Linked DNA regions of Homo sapiens: region 2 is linked to region 1. The links come from fine-mapping of genetic effects on gene expression. Tissue or cell type: monocytes after R848. Region 1 holds a variant in brackets; the other region holds the start of a gene. All regions are shown on one strand. Distances are between the middles of the regions.

The links. PIP is the estimated chance that this variant, and not a neighbour inherited with it, causes the effect.
Region 2: it holds the start of ERN1, and the variant in region 1 is fine-mapped to the expression of ERN1 in monocytes after R848 (Quach 2016, PIP 0.95).

Annotation. Positions count from the first base shown.
Region 1 is chr17:64,283,243-64,291,344 of GRCh38, forward strand. No RefSeq gene overlaps it. Among named protein-coding and RNA genes, the nearest start is that of TEX2, 24 kb to the left of the region's middle. RefSeq lists a silencer at 6,447-6,741. The variant G/A (reference allele first, on the strand shown) is at 4,099.
Region 2 is chr17:64,125,516-64,133,614 of GRCh38, forward strand. It overlaps ERN1 (endoplasmic reticulum to nucleus signaling 1), which reads right to left and starts at 4,629. Exons shown (of 22, transcript NM_001433.5): 1 at 4,461-4,629. The coding sequence starts at 4,514. RefSeq lists silencers at 4,140-4,589, 4,680-4,809 and enhancers at 5,230-5,429, 5,480-5,529, 6,434-6,493, 8,089-8,099.

The DNA of each region.
Region 1 (8,102 bases):
ACACCCAGCTGGTTTTTGTATTTTTAGTAGAGATGGGGTTTCACCATGTTAGCCAGGCTGGTCTCGAACTCCTGACCTCAAGTGATCTGTTCGCCTCGGCATCCCAAAGTGCCGGGATTACAGGCGTGAGCCACCGTGCCCAGCCCCCCTTATTATTATTACATACATATGGGTGCCTTTAAATAATGTTTAAAAGGAACAACCCTACTGTGGTTTGAATGTGTGTGTCTCTTCGAAATGTGTGTTGAAATTTCGTTCCCAATGCATGAGGTGGGGCTTTTAGGAGATGACTAGGTCAGAGGGCCTTGCCCTCATGAATGGGATTAGGGTTCTTATAAAAGGGCTGAAGGGAGCCTATTTGTCCTTTTCATCCCTTTCTCCCTTTCCACCATGTGAGGAGACAGCATTTGTCTCTTCTGGAGGACGCAGCAACAAGGCACCATCTTGAAAGCAGAGATGGAGCCCTCACCAGATACTGGATCTGCCAATCCCTTGATCTTGGACTTTCCAGCCTCCAGAACTGTGAGAAATAAATTTCTACTATTTATAAATCACCCAGACTAAGGTATTTTGTTATAGCAGCAGGAACAGACTAAGACAAACGCTTAAAGGAATCTTGAAGAAGAATCTCCGGGTGTAGTTAAAATATACGGTTTGAACCATTCCCCTAAGTAAATTCAGGTGGAATCCCCATGTCATGGATGATGTGTGTCATTTATAGAAGTGATCTCTCTAGGGAAGGATGAGTAGTGGGTGCCTGAGGGGGATTTAGGGACAGCCAAGGCTGGTTGTAATGACTAGGGCAGTGTCTCAATTTGTATGACCAGTACGTGATGACATAGAATAGGGTTTTCCAAAGTGGGCACCGCTGTGGTACTCAGATGCTTCTAGTAGTCCAGAGACCAAAGCTGGTGTATTAGGCCATTCTTGCATTGCTATAAAGAAATACCTGAGACTGAGTAATTTACAAAAGAGGTTTAATTGGGTCATGGTTTTGCAGGCTGTGCAACCATGGTGCCAGCACCTGCTTGGCTTCTGGGGAGGCCTCAGGGTGCTTTTATTCCTGGCTGAAGATGAAGCGGGAGCAGACATGTCACGTGGCCAGAGCAGGAGCAAGAGAGAGAGTGGTGGTTGTGAGGGGTGCCACATACTTAAACAACCAGATCTCCTGAGAACTCATTTACTATCACGAGGACAGCACCAAGCCATGAGGGATCCGCTCCCATGACCCAGACATCTCCCACCAGGCCTCGCCTCCAACACCAGGGTTTACAGTTCAACATGAGATTTGGCCAGGATATATATTAAAATTATATCCGTTGGTCATTAGGTCTACTGGCCACACCATTCCTGCTGATCCTGTCTGTGGTGGGTCAGCTGACTTGAGCCTTCAGTGGTCTGGCCATTCTGTTTCTTGCTGAAACCAATTAAATGCAGGCGAATTTGCCAGACTACAGCCCTGTGAGGGTGGGAACTTTGTCTTTTTCACCACTATATGCCCAGCCCCTAGAATTGTGCCTGGAAAACAGCGTGTGCTCAAAAATGTATGTTGAATGAGTGAATAAATGAATGACTGAATGAAATTGGCCTCCTGAATTATTCACCCAACTCCCGACAGCTTGATTAATGAAGTAAGCTGATAAAGAAGTTTCCAGAGGCTGAGGGCAGTGGCTCATGCCAGTAATCCCAGCACTTTGGGAGGCCGAGGCGGGAGAATCACCTGCGATCAGGAGTTCAACCACCCTGGCCAACATCGTGAAACCCCGTCTCTACTAAAAATACAAAAAGTTAGCCAGGCGTGGTGGTGCGTGTTTATAGTTCCAGCTACTTGGGAGGCTGAAGCAGGAGAATCGCTTGGACTCGTGAGGCGGAGGTTGCAGTGAGCCGAGATTGTGCCATTGCACTCAAGCCTGGGCAACAAGAGCGAAACTCCATCTCAAAACAAACAAACAGAAGTTCCTGGAAAGGTAAGGCCTGAACTAAAGCCCCACCTGGAAAGATGCTTTATTGACTGGCTGATGAATAAGAAAGACCCCTCCCAACCCTGCCCCTTGCTGCATGGAGCAAATTGTCAGGGGCCAGACACCTAGGCTTCATGGTGCTGTGCCAGGAGGTCGTAGAGGGCCAAGCTGCCCCTGCCTAACTCCTCTATCTCTGCTCCCTGATTATCAATACTCCTCTGGCACATCCAACAGGGCTCCTAGGTTGTTAAGTGGACTCAAGGCCCGGGCAGGCTTAGGCTGCAGATTGGCTTCTGTCTGAAGTTCCATCAAAGAGAGAAGAGCAACATCTCAGAAACATGATGAAAGGCTCCTGGGAAGCAGGGTCTGATTTTCAAAAGGTCATCTACAGCCCACATCAAGAGTACCTGCTGTTCTCAAAGGACAGGGCTCTAAACAGAGACTGCAGCTATTTCCTTCTCTGACATTCAACACAGTGACTAGAACCAGGCAAAGGCACCCAGAGGACCATGGCAGCCCATCCTGGAGTTGAGAGGGCTGGATGATGGGGCCCTGAGGGAGAGACAGCACTGTCTTGGGCTGTTATAGTCAGGATCTGCCACATGTCCTAACAGGGCTGGAGGAAGGGTCCTGATATGGTTTGGCTGTGTCCCCACTCAAATCTCATCTTGAATTGTAGCTCCCACAATTCCCATGTGTTGGGAGTGACCCAGTGGGAGGTAATTGAATCATGGGGGCAGGTCTTTCCCATGCTATTCATGTGATAGTGAATAAGTCTCATGAGATCTGATGGTTTTATAAAGGGCAGTCTCCCTGCACAAACTCTCTTCCCTTGTCTGCTGCCACGTGAGACGTGCCTTTCACTTTCTGCCATGATTGTGAGGCCTCCCCAGCCACGTGGAACTGTGAGTCCATTAAATCTCTTTCTTTTGTAAATCGCCTAGTCTTGGGTGTGTCAGGTATGTCTTTTATTTTTATTTATTTATTTTGAGACAGAGTCTCACTCTGTTGCCCGGGCTGGAGTGCAGTGGTGCTATTTTGCCTCACTGCCGCCCCTGCCTCCCTGGTTCAAGCGATTCTCCTGCCTTGGCGTCCCAAGTAGCTGGGATTACAGGCGCTTGCCACCACGCCTGGCTAATTTTTGCATTTTTAGTAGAGACAGGGTTTCGCCATGTTGGCCAGGCTGGTCTCAAACTCCTGACCTCAGGTGATCTGCCTGCCTCAACCTCCCAAGATGCTGGCATAACAGGCGTGAGCCACTGTGACCGGCCTGGGGTATGTGTTTCTCAGCAGTGTGAAAGTGGATTAATACAAGTGCCCTGCCTGTCTTGAGAGACAGTAGAAAGACACTGTCCTGGGAGTCCAAGGCAGGGCCTGTCCCCATAGGGAGCACAGGGTGAGCAGGACAGAACCAATCTTCAGGGGGAACTTTCCAGAGCCGTGGATTGTTGGACTGACCGCTCCCTTGACTGAAGGAAGGTTCGAAGAAGGCCCTCCAGCCCGAGGTGTGTCCTGAATCAGGCCCTGGGGATCATAGCAAGAACCAGCAGGCCCTTTCATCAGAGCCCCACTCTCTGGGCATGTCACAGCTGTGCCTAGGAGGGCTCGCTCTCTCTCCTCCAGTGGGAACACAGCAGGGCCAGTAGGGCCTCCGAACTGGGCCCATCTTCCTCAAGCTGAGTTCGTCAATTTCCCCAGGCCCAGACTGTCCCCCTGAGCCTTTGCCCAGGAGCTGCTTTGCCCACAAAGCCTTCTCACCCTGCCTTCTTGTTGCAGATTAAAGGGCACCTCCACTGTAATTAGATCCTTTTTCAAACAAAAGAACTATACGTAATGTCCTTGAAATAACTGGGGAAATTTGAATATGAACTGGGCATTGGATTATCAAAGAAATATGATGACCTACGTTTGGTGTGATAAAGGTATCCCTATGTAGGAAATTATCTTTGTGTGTTCTTTTTTTTTGAGACGAAGTCTCGCTCTTATCCCCCAGGCTGGAGTGCAATGGCATGATCTTGGCTCACTGCAACCTCCGCCTCCTGGGTTCAAGCGATTCTCCTGCCTCAGCCTCCCAAGTAGCTGGGATTATAGGCATGTGCCACCACGTCTGGCTAATTTTTGTATTTTTAGTGGAGAC[G/A]GGGTTTCACCATGTTGGCCAGGCTTGCCTCAAACTCCTGACCTCAGGCGATCCACCCGCCTCGGCCTCCCAAAGCGCTGGGATTACAGGCGTGAGCCACCGTGCCCAGCTATCTTTGTTTTTAAAAGGAGGCCGGGCGTGGTGGCTCATGCCTATAATCCCAGCACTTTGGGAGGCCAAGGCGGGCGGATCAAAAAATCAGGGGATTGAGACCATCCTGGCCAACATGGTGAAACCCTGTCTCTACTAAAAATGTAAAAATTAATCGGGCGTGGTGGTGCACTCCTGTAATCCTAGCTTCTTGGGAGGCTGAGGCCAGAGAATCCCTTGAACTCGGGAGGCGGAGGTTGCAGTGAGCCAAGATTGCGCCACTGCATTCCAGCGAGCCAAGATTGCGCCACTGCACTCCAGCCTGGTGACAGAGTGAGACTCTGTCTCAAAAAAAAAAAAAAAAAAAGGAACACTGAGGTATTTGGGGGTGAACCTCTGCAATGTCTGAAGTTTACCTTAAAATCCTTCAGAAGGAAGTTAGAAATAAATCTAGCAAGATGCTAATAACTGTTAAGCCTGGGTGGTGAGCATGTAAGGCTTTCTGTATGTTTGGAAATTTATATAATATAATGTAGGAAGAACCTCCGAGAGGCCTTCCCTGATTCCCTAGAACTGGGTTGGGTGTCCCTCTCATGGGTGACCGTAGTTCCTGTCCTGGCCCGACATCAGTCACCGGGACACTTAGAATTCTGAATTCAACTGCCTGCCTTTTAAAATTAGGTTAAGACCCTTGGGGGTACCCCCAGAGAGTCTGACAGAGAGTAGATGCTAATACAGGAATGCTGGAAAGAAGGAAGGAGGAAGAGGGAGGAGGGAGGGAGGCTGCAGCCCCCAGCTCCCGTCTCAGAACCAGGCACACAGCAAGTCCTCAACTCTTGTTTATTAGGCTGAATTTTCTTTTCTATTTTTTTTGAAACGGAGTCTTGCTCTGTCACCCAGGCTGGAGTGCAGTGGTGCAATCTTGGCTCCCTGCAACTTCCACCTCCAGGGTTCAAGTAATTCTTGTGCCTCAGCCTCCTGTGTAGCTGGGAATACAGGCATCCACCACCACGCCTGGCTAATTTTTATATGTTCTTTTTTTAGTAGAGACAAGGTTTTGCCATGTTGGCCAGGCTGGTCTTGAACTCCTGACCTCAAGTGATCTGCCCGCCTCAGCCTCCCAAAGTGTTGGGATTACAGGCATGAGCCAGCGTGCCTGGTCTAGGCTGAATTTTCTAGGAGGAAGCCGGCTCTCCTGTCTTCCTTTTCCTTGAGGGTTCTATCAGTGTCATAGTCAGAAGACAGGCTGGGTTTTGTGGCCGCCTTCCTTTTCTGTGTCCCAAGCCCACCCTCAGCCAAAGTGCTGTTGGAAATTGAGGCTGAATATTTATGCCCACCACACAGAAATGTGTACATGAATTTTTTTGTTTGTTTGTTTGTTTGTTTTGAGATGGAGTCTTGCTCTATTGCCCAGGCTGGAGTGCAGTGGCGCGATCTTGGCTCGCTGCAACCTCTGCCTCCCGGGTTCAAGTGATTCTTCTGCCTCAGCCTCCCGAATAGCTGGGACTACAGGCGTGCGCCACCACGACTGGCTAATTCATGAATGTTTTTAGCAGCAGTATTCATGATAGCAAAAAAGGTCAAACAACCCAAATGTCCACCAACTGATGAATGGATAAAATGTGGTGTATCCATACAACGAAATATTATCTGGCAATAAAAGGGAACAAAGTTCTGATGGATGCCACAACAGGGATGAACCTCAAAAACATTACGCTAAGTGGAAGAAGCCAGTCACGAAGGGTCACATATTATGATCACATTTATATGGAAGGTCCAGTGTAGGCAAATCCACAGAGGCAGAAGACTGATATGTAGTTTCCTAGGACTATGAGAGTTAGAGGAAGACAGAGTCTCGCTCTGTCACCCAGGCTGGAGTGCAGTGGCGTGATCATGGCTCGCTGTAGCCTTGACCTCCTGGGCTCAAGCAATCCTCACACATTAGCCTCTCGAATAGCTGGGACTGCAGGTGCAAGCTGCTACGCCTGGCTAATTTTTGTATTTTTTATTTTAGTAGAGATGGGTTCTTGCCATGTTGCCCCGGCTGGTCTTGAACTCCTGGGCTCAAGTGATCCTCCCACCTCTGCCCCCAAAGTGCTAGGATTATAGGTGTGAGCTACTGCACCCAGCCAGTAGGAGTTTTTTGGGGGGGATGACAAAAATGTTCTAAAATTGATTGTAGTGTTGGTTGCAGGACTCTGAATATACCAAAAACCTCTGAATCGTCACTTTAAAAGCATGAATTTTATGGTATGTGAATTATATCTCAATCAAGCTGTTATTAAAATATATATATATATATGGCCATTATCCAGCCTGTGCTGCAGGGTGATAAGGCAGAACGAGATGGACGTGGGGTTGGCTGTCTTCCCAATTTAAAATAGAACAATAAAAGATGAGCTGGGGATGTGGGGCGAGTATGTAACAGGGCCTATAAATAAGACCTTGGCTTGTAGCTGTCAGATGCAAGGTGCTGATGAGGGCTGCTTATCTGTGACCTTGCAAGGAGCAAAGTTTGATCTCAATCTATTCACTAAACAGCCAAGTGTGATGCTGTGGAGATGGGGAAGACGAAAACTCCTCCTGTGGTGCCAGAAAGATATAATTAAAAATATAAATCACACTTTCCAGGCTTGGAAGACATTTATCATGTAGCTTTCCAGAGGCATTGCACAGACAAGGCAGTTTGAATAATTCCATGAATTACCTTGGAAAAGAGAAGGAGGGGGCACCTCCAGAGTGGTGGGCATGGTGGAGAGGGGGAAGGAAGGAAGGAAAGAGGACAGATCAGTAGCAACGAGGGGGAAGTGGGTATTGTTGTGGATTCCCAGCCTGGTGGTCCAGGCCAGGACATGTGTGGTGAGCACACACAGCATTAGACATTTTCTTAATCAGTTGTCATAAGAATACGAGCTCCAGGAGGGCAGAGATTTTTGTTTGTTTTGTTCATTGCTGCATCCCCATGGCTGGTGTGCCACAATTTTTTGTGTGTACATGTTGAGTAAATGAATATTTTAAAATTAGAGTTGACTTCCACCTCTGGTGAAGATGGAATAACAGGGACCAGTCTGAAACAAGTAAAAAACTGGACAAAAGATTTCAGTGAACCAAAAAAGGAAAAACAAAAAAAAAAGCTGGACAAAATATAAAACAATGGTTTTCAAGACATTGGATGTCACGCAATGGATCTCAAGGACAACAATCCTTGAGAGAAGAGAAATAGACTGGGTGTGGTGGCTCACGCCTATAATCCCAGCACTTTGGGAGGTCTAGGTGGGAGGATCACTTGAGGCCAAGTGTTCAATATCAGCTTGGCCAACATGGGGAAACCCCGTCTCTACTAAAAATACAAAAATTAGCCAAGCGTGGTGGTGCATGCCTATAATCCTAGCTACTTGGGAGGCTGAGGCAGGAGAATCACTTGAACTCGGGAGGCGGAGGTTGCAGTGAGCCAAGACTGCGCCACTGCACTCCAAGCTGGGCAACAGAGCAAGACTCCATCTCAAAAACAAACAAACAAACAAACAAACAAACAAAGAATATCCTATGGCTAAGGGAGAAGACCCACAGCTGGAATTCAGACTTTGTGGGGCAAAGTGAAATTACGGCCCACTGGATAATGAAGTTCACTGGGTTGTCCCAGGCCACAGCTGGTCCACAGTTGCTGGACAAACAGAAACTCCCGTCTGGGGTGCAAGCAGGTAGAGGTTGGTGGGCACAGAACTATGGCTAAGATTGGCAAGCAAGAAATCTCCCCATCAGGGTACAGATGGACTAAAGCTGGAAAGTGAACCACCATGGGGCCTGTGGGACTCACTGAGAATCTGCCCACGGGGACTGCTGAAACTTGATGGGAAGCTGTCAGTGAGGATAATTCTAAAATTTGGTGAGGGTGAGTACCACTGGATGTCCCT
Region 2 (8,099 bases), 160 kb before region 1:
TCTCGCTCTGTTGCCAAGGCTGCAGTGCAGTGGTGTGATCTCAGCTCACTGCAACCTCTACCTCCCAGGTTCAAGCGATTCTCCTGCCTCGGCCTCCCGAGTAGCTGGGATTACAGGTGCATGCCACCTTGCCCAGCTAATTTTTGTATTTTTAGTACAGACGGAGTTTTGCCATGTTGGCCAGGCTGCTCTCGAACGCCTGACCTCAAGTGATTCACCCGCCTTGGCCTCCTAAAGTGCTGGGATTACAGGCGCAAACCACCAAGCCCGGCTGAGAAGCTCAATGTTTTTTTACATGGATGATGGTTTACTAAGGTGCTACTAAAGTGACAAATGTGATGGTGTACTCAGAACATTTTCTACCGGGTTACAGAAGATGTTCTGTGGGGAAAAAGTGAACAAAAATAGATAACATCGTATTTTTATACCGTTGTATTTGCTGTATGTTTGTACATGAGCAAAGATTATAAGATATTGATAGAAAGACTGTCTAAAACCAGCTGTGTTGCTCTAAGGCAGGGAAGTTTGAAACCAAACATGGGATATAGGTAAAGATAGAAAGGAAAAAAAAAACTGCTTCTGGGAAATATTTCCAACCAGTAGTTTATTATTCACAAACTGTGATTCACCAGTCCTATTTTTTAAGCCAGCATCACGCTCTAATCATATTCCTAGGTTACAAGCCCAGTTATTTGTGCATAATAAAAACTGAATCCATTAAGATGATACATTAGGCTTTTCTTCCCTATGTCATCTCTTTAGGGAGACATTTGATTATAAAACCTACAAAATATTGAACCTACATATTACTTTGGATCCCGAAACCAAAGAGGTTTCCTATGAAAATGAAACAGTTATCCAAGGATTCTTTCACCTGAAAAACGGAGTCCAAATCTGGGGCAGGCAAATAATGAAACCCTCAGACCTATGCAAGTGACACTATTCCATCCAGACATGAAGAAACTTTAATGCGGCTCACTAGATTTATGTTCGGAAATATGGGCTATTGTTGAACTCTCTCTCGAATAACTCTCAGATACATTTTTCTCCTGTGCTCTGAGAAGCTACATTACTGCAGAAGGCTGAATAGGCAGGCAAGTTAATGAAACAATACACATGTGCACAACTACAGTTTAATTTCATGATCAGCAGCCCTGATAACAAACTCAATGAACATTCTACTTATGGCCTCAGTATAAACACTTGATATCGCCTATTAGGATAATTAATGCAGGTGATCACTGTCAGAATAAATGATAAGCAAAGACATTGCTAGTTAAGACTCATCTATCAGATTACAGTGTTTCTATACACACATGATCCTCAGTTCTCGGTGACTTTTTAAAAACCTCCCTCTAAAACCAAAATATTGGCTAAATGAAAGAAATCTGATATCTTATAGCTTTTAAAAAAAAAGGTACTTTGCCTCACATTGTACTGATCTCTTTGGTAATTGAGAGATGTGGCACCTAAATAACCATAAAATGAGGACTGCTGACAGTGATGATGTAACCCTAACCAACTCTAGGAGCAAGATATAGGTCTAGGAAGAAAGGAAAAACTCACTGACTAAATAAGCACATTCTGGATTAACAAAAGACAGCCTCAAGTGCTTAATAATACCAATGTTATTGCGTTTTGGATCTGGTAGCCTAAAGTCTCAACTCATAATGAGTCAATGTCTGGCTCAATAAGACACACACTGAAAGAAAATCACAGTATTGCCTCCAATGCAATAGTTACTACATCAATCAAAAAGAAATATCAAAAACTATTTCTTGCAGAGGCATAGTATAACATTCAAAAAATGATGGCTTAGAGTAAAAAGCATCTTTGGAGCATAAAGAGAATTTACATTTATTATCTATTAAGCACGTGTGAAGGTGGTGCCTTCTTTCACATGTTAGCTGTCCCCATTTCACCTATCAGGAAGGAGTCTCTAAGAAGTAAAATCATGGCCGGGTGCGGTGGCTCATGCCTGTAATCCCAGCATTTTGGAAGGCCAAGGTGGGTGGATCACTTGAGGTCAGGAGTTCGAGACCAACCTGGCCAACATGGTGAAACCACGTCTCTACTAAAAATACAAAAATTAGCCGGGTGTAGTGGTGGGCTCCTGTAATCCCAGCTACTCGGGAGGCTGAGGCAGGAGAATCGCTTGAACCCGGGAGGCGGAGGTTGCAGTGAGCTGAGACCACACCATTGCACTCCAGCCTGGGCAACAAGAGCGAAGAAACTCCATATCAAAAAAAAAAAAAAAAAGAAGTAGTAGTAGTAGTAGTAAAAGAATATGCCTAGGGCACAGCTAGCAAGTGACCAGTTAGAACTCAGGTTTGTCTGATTTTATACCCACTGCGTTCTGCACATCACTGTTGCCTGGTTTAACTGCAAACTTTGCTATGAGTTTCATTTACAATTTTAAAATAATAATTCTTACTATGTTTGGGGGTAAAAACCCTTGGGAGAAAATTCTAGGAGTGAAATTCTGACCTTTCTTTTTTTTTTTTGAGACAGAGTCTTGCTCTGTCACCCAGGCTGGAGCACAGTGACTCCATCTCTGCAACCTCTGCCTCCCAGGTTCGGGTGATTCTCCTGCCTCAGCCTCCCCAGTAGCTGGGATTACAGGCCTGCGCTACCACGCCCGGCTAATTTTTTTTTTTTTTTTTTTTTGTATGTTTAGTAGAGACAAGGTTTCACCATGTTGGCCAGGCTGGTCTCAAACTCCTGACCTCAAGTGATCCACCCACCTCAGCCTCCCAAAGTGCTGGGATTACAGGCATGAGCCACCGGGCCCGGCCTGACCTTTCACCTAAATATAGTTACGCTAAACTATAACCTTTTGATAAGGGTCTGGAATATTTTATCATGAACTCTGAGAAGTTTGGATTTCTAAATACAAATTGGAAATATTTACACGAACTGAAACTATAGTTCCAACTACAGCTAAATCGTTATTTTTGGCTCTTTAGCCTAAGTTATTCAATAACCAAACACTAGAATCCAGTGACAAAGTAGCAAAAGGAAAGATGTGGCAAAGGAAACCATTATACACCTATCCCTTGACGTTATGAAATGATCGAATTCATGTCAAACATTTGGTCATTCTGCTTATACCTTCGTTTGTGAACAGATGCCAGGCAGTAGTTACCAATCCAAGGTGAGGTGCTCAAGTTCAAAACCTGACCTTAGTTGTAAAAGTGGGGTTTTTATTTGAAAGAAAAACTTAACTTCCACAAGTTCTATTATAAAGAGTCTACAAATTTTCCTTTATTTAAAAAAAAAAACCCTGAATTTGAAAAAGGCAACCTTATTTATTTACTTCTCCTGTTTCCAAATTCTTGTTACTCCAAGAGTACAGACAGTTATTTACCTAAAATGCAAAACCTCCAAAGAGTTCACACGGTGGCTGGCACTCAGGCACACACATGTCAGTGCTCTACTGGGACACCTGGTACATGATATCCCTATTAAAGAGTACACAGTACCTTTAAAGAGGTCATTAAACAGAACACGGACAAATTTGCCACGCTCACATCCTGAACAATACATTTTGTGAAAAACATTCGCTAATTTAGGTTCTTCCAACCAGAAGAAAAAAAAAAGCCAAGTCTCCCACAAAGTGCCCCCAAATCCACAGCTGAGTGAAGGTCATAAAGAGTTAAATGAATGTAAACCAGGCCCTATCATTCGTCTCCTCCAGAAAAAGATGAAAAGACATTTCTGATGGCCCCAGGTGCTCTCCCACGAGGAGACAGTCTTTCATTTGAGGTTCTGAAGCGGCCTCACCTCGAACCCATGCGGGATCTTCCAAGAGTGCAATTCCCACAGCTCCACTTGCTCAAGGAAGTCTCGGTGCACAGAAGGAAGCCTGCAGCCTCCCAGTACCAAGAAACCGGCAGGGCAAGTGGCAGAAGCCAGCTCTCGGGTGAGAGTCCTTACTCCCTGTTGCATTCGTTCCCCAAAGTTTTCGAATTTTTAAAAAGTTCAAACAAGGATTCGAAGCGCAGGACAGACCCTTCCCCTGGATCCCAACGCCCTTTCGGCTCCTCCGCGGCCCCCGCCAGGCAGCGCCGGCGCCCGCCCGCGAGGAGGAGGGTCCCGCAGGTGGGCGGCCTCCTCAGGCCGGGGCCTTCTGGGACCCCCAAGTGCCGTGCAGGACGCCACGAAGTTGCGCCCGAGCCCGCGGGGTCCGGGGAGCCGCTGCCCGTGACAGCCGCGCTGGCTTGGGAGGCTCTTCGGGCGGCCGACGCCTCGGTGGGGCCGCGACTCCCGTCAGGGAAGCTCTCCCGGCCCGGTGCCGCCTCCTACGCCCGGCCCGAGCCTCCCACGGCTGGGCTCACGGGGCATCTGGCCGCCGCCGTCGCGCTCCCAGCTCGGACTCCAGCCCCGGCGCCGCGACGCTGCCCCGGCCCCGACCCGGCCGTCGCGAGCTGTCCTCCACCCCACGCTCCCCGGTCACTCACCCCGAGGCCGGGCAGCAGCAGCGTCAGCAGCAGCAGCAGCCGCCGGGCCGGCATGGCGAGGACTCGGCCCTGGCTCCGGGGGCGGTACGGACAGAGGACGGGGCGGGGGCGCCGCGACGACAGCGAGGCGGTGACCGAGCCTCAGCGGACGCAGAACTGACTAGGCAGCGGCGGCACCCCCATTCCCGGCCCTATAAGCGCTGGGTGCCGCGGCTTCTTCCGGTCGGGGCGGAGTTGCGGGCGGGGACGGGGCGGGGCCAATCTAGGGGCGTGTTCGGGGCGGAGATGGGGGCGGGCCGAGGGCGTGCCCCGGGCGGGGATGTGGGAGGGGCTGGCTCGGGGCGGGGCCGAAGGCGGTGCTGGCATCTGGCTGGCTTCGCTCATGAGGCGTCGGCGGCTGTAAAGGACCAGGCCTCGGCATCCAGCGTCTGGGGGCGCTGGGGGATCGAGGCGCGAAGCTTGTCTGTGGCTGGGAAAGACCGGCAATGCCCCACCAGGCCGTCCCATTAACCCTGCCGAGGGACCTGCCGCGTCAGACTTCATCGGGGAAAAGGGCGGGACACGGGCGGTCCCGGGTGCCTAGAAGCCTCCTTTTCGTCTTTCCGCCGTGGTGGAATCATCCGCAAGGTTTACCGAGGCGACCTCCGGAGCGAAGGTTTCAGCAGCTACCGGAGGCTTCCAGCAAACACGGCGCAGCTGCCCCGCGCGGCAGTCGCAGTGTTCACAGCCCTAGGGTTCTCCAGCTGTGCCTCGTCTTCTCTGGGGCCCCTTTCTTCCTTTTCCTTGCCCTCAGGAATTCCCCTCAAGTCATATCCACCAGCCATCACTTCCGCTTGGAATGAACCACGGCCAAGTCACTCACCAAAAATTATAAGGAGGAAACCATTTCGGCCACTTGTGTCACGTGCGTTGATGTGACACGTGTGGATGTGAAGTTTGAGATGGTCTGCGTCACAACTCGTTGGAGGGAGTGGGTGGGTTGAGGCCTCCTGCAAGGTCTATGTGAGGGTGTGGAGTACTAATTAGAGTTAAAGAGCTCGGCAGCTGTTTGGTCACTGGCACTGGCCTCCACTGAGAGGGACATGGGTAGGGAGGACACGTCTTTTGCAAGGAAAGACAGTAAACTGAGATTTGGAGCCCAGGGAAAGGTATCTAACTTATCCTAGGAGAAAAAGAAAACGGCTATGAAATTCTCTAATTTTTCCTGACTTGCTTATATGAGAGCCTAAGATTTTTCAGGTTTGAAGGAAAAGAATAAGCACTCCTAGACAAAACAACAAAGTAGTAGTGGGGGACTGGCCAAATGTCCAGTCTGTGTGCATTGTGGTCAATCTTATCCAACTAAAACAGACCAAAATGACAGTAAGCCCAAATCCTGCAAATAGAGCTCCCCATTCCTAACCCCCTAGGCCTGGATTACAGTGAAGGGACTAAGTCCTACCGCATGCTGGAGACTCCAACACATCTCTGTAAGAGTGGGAAGAATCTTGGCAACTGTGAAAACAGTAGAGACATTTTGAAAAGTGTTACCTGAATGTCTAAATGCAAACAGAGGTTTGGGATTGGCAGAGAGATGTACTGAGAGGCCCAGCACTCCTGAGCAGTATAGCCGGGCTTCCAGGGAGGCCTACAGCCCTGAAACTGGGAGGAGCTCTTTATTTCTTGACCTTTTATCTTTTCTTTTTAGAGATGAGGTCTCACGGTGTTGCCCAGGCTGCTCTCAAACTCCTGGGCTCAAGAGATCCTCCCCAGTAGCTGGGACTTCAGGTGTGCCCCACGACACCTGGCTTGGGAGGACCTCTTTAGTGATTACCTGTCCAGTTTGCCAGCTGACAACAGCATCTGTTAGACCCTGTATACTTGACTTAAAAGAGAAGCTTGACTGAAAAATGTCACTTTCACATCCCCCCCTCTGGTGCTTTTTCTCAAACAGAGTAAGTCTAGGAGGGGAAAATTTGCTGTACTGGAACTCTGGCAGCCCTTTTACAATTCAAAATGTCACTGTGACCCTGTAACATCAGCAGATGAAACACAAAGGGGAATGCTGACCTCAATTTCACTCATAAATCAGTTTTAAAGATCGTAGAAAGAAAAAAAATCTGTTCCAAGAAGCCTGGACAGTTAGGTATTATTTATCTTACACTCAGTTGGACCAAATCCCCAGGGCTTAATTGCACTGTTACATGTTCTCTGAATTTCTTTCTTTTTTTTTTTTTTTTGAGACAGAGTTTCACTCTTTTGCCCAGGCTAGAGTGCAGTGGCACGATCGTGGCTCACTGCAACCTCTGCCTTTTCGGTTTCAAGCGATTCTCCTGCCTGAGACTCCCGAGTAGCTGGGATTACAGGTGCCTGCCACCACGCCTGGCTAATTTTTGTATTTTTATAGAGACGGGGTTTCACCATGTTGGCCAGGCTGGTCTCGAACTCCTGACCTCGTGATCTGCCCACCTCCGCCTCCTAAAGTGCTGGGATTACAGGCGTGAGCCACTGTGCCCGGCCCCATTCTCTGAATTTCTTATGCATCGTCCACATGCTTCATGCACTTCTTCACTTGATTGGCAATCCAGACAGATAAGCACTGGTTTTATTTATGGTGGCATTGCCCATAATCTTGCTCTACAGTCAAGTACTTCTTTAGGCAGCTTTTTGCTTATGATAAAGTAAAAGCTGATAGCACTGATAAACACAAACAGAAATGGAATATTTTGTAGGGTGCCTTTGAAGTGGACCTGACCATATAAAAGACCTGCAAATGGGCAGTAAATGACCTTTCTGCAAGTCACATTAAATAACATCCACTGAATAAAGCAAAGGTCATGGTCTTAGTGTAAAGATAAGGCCTCTTTTCCACCAGTGTAAGAAACATATATACATCAGATTCAACAAAGAAGTACAGCAGGATCTGACTATGGGGAGGTGGGAGAAAATCTTATTTTCACTTCCCTTTAAACCACTGGTTCCCAAACTTGGAGAGCTAAAAAAACAAAACAAAACAACAACAACAAAAAACAGATTTCCAGGCCAGGCATGGTGGCTCACGCCTGTAATCCCAGCACTTTGGGAGGCCGAAGCAGGAGGATTGCTTGAGATCAAGACCAGCCTAGGGAACATGGTGAGACCCTGTTTCTGTAAAAAAAAAAAAACAAAAAACCAAAAAATTAGTCAGGCATAGTGGTTCACACCTGTAGTTCCAGTGACTTGGGAAGCTGAGGTGGGAGGATGGCTTGAGCCCAGGAGGTCAAGGCTGCAGTGAGCTTTGATCGTGCCATGGCACTCCAGCCTGGACGACAGAGCAAGACCCTGTCTCAAAAAAATAGAAATAAAAAGCTGGGCATGGTGGCTCACACCTGTAATCCCAGCACTTTGGGAGGACGAGGCAGGTGGATCACGAGGTCAGGAGTTCAAGACCAACCAGCCTGAGCAACATGGTGAAACCCTGTCTCTACTAAAAAAACAAAAATTAGCCGGGCGTGGTGGTGTGCGCCTGTAGTCCCAGCTACTTGGGAGGCTGAGGGAGAAAAATCTCTTGAACCCGGGAGGCAGAGGTTGCAGTGAGCCAAGACTGCGCCACTGCACTCCAGTCTGGGCGACAGAGTGAGACTCCATCTCAAAAAACAAACAAAAAAAAAGAAATTAAAA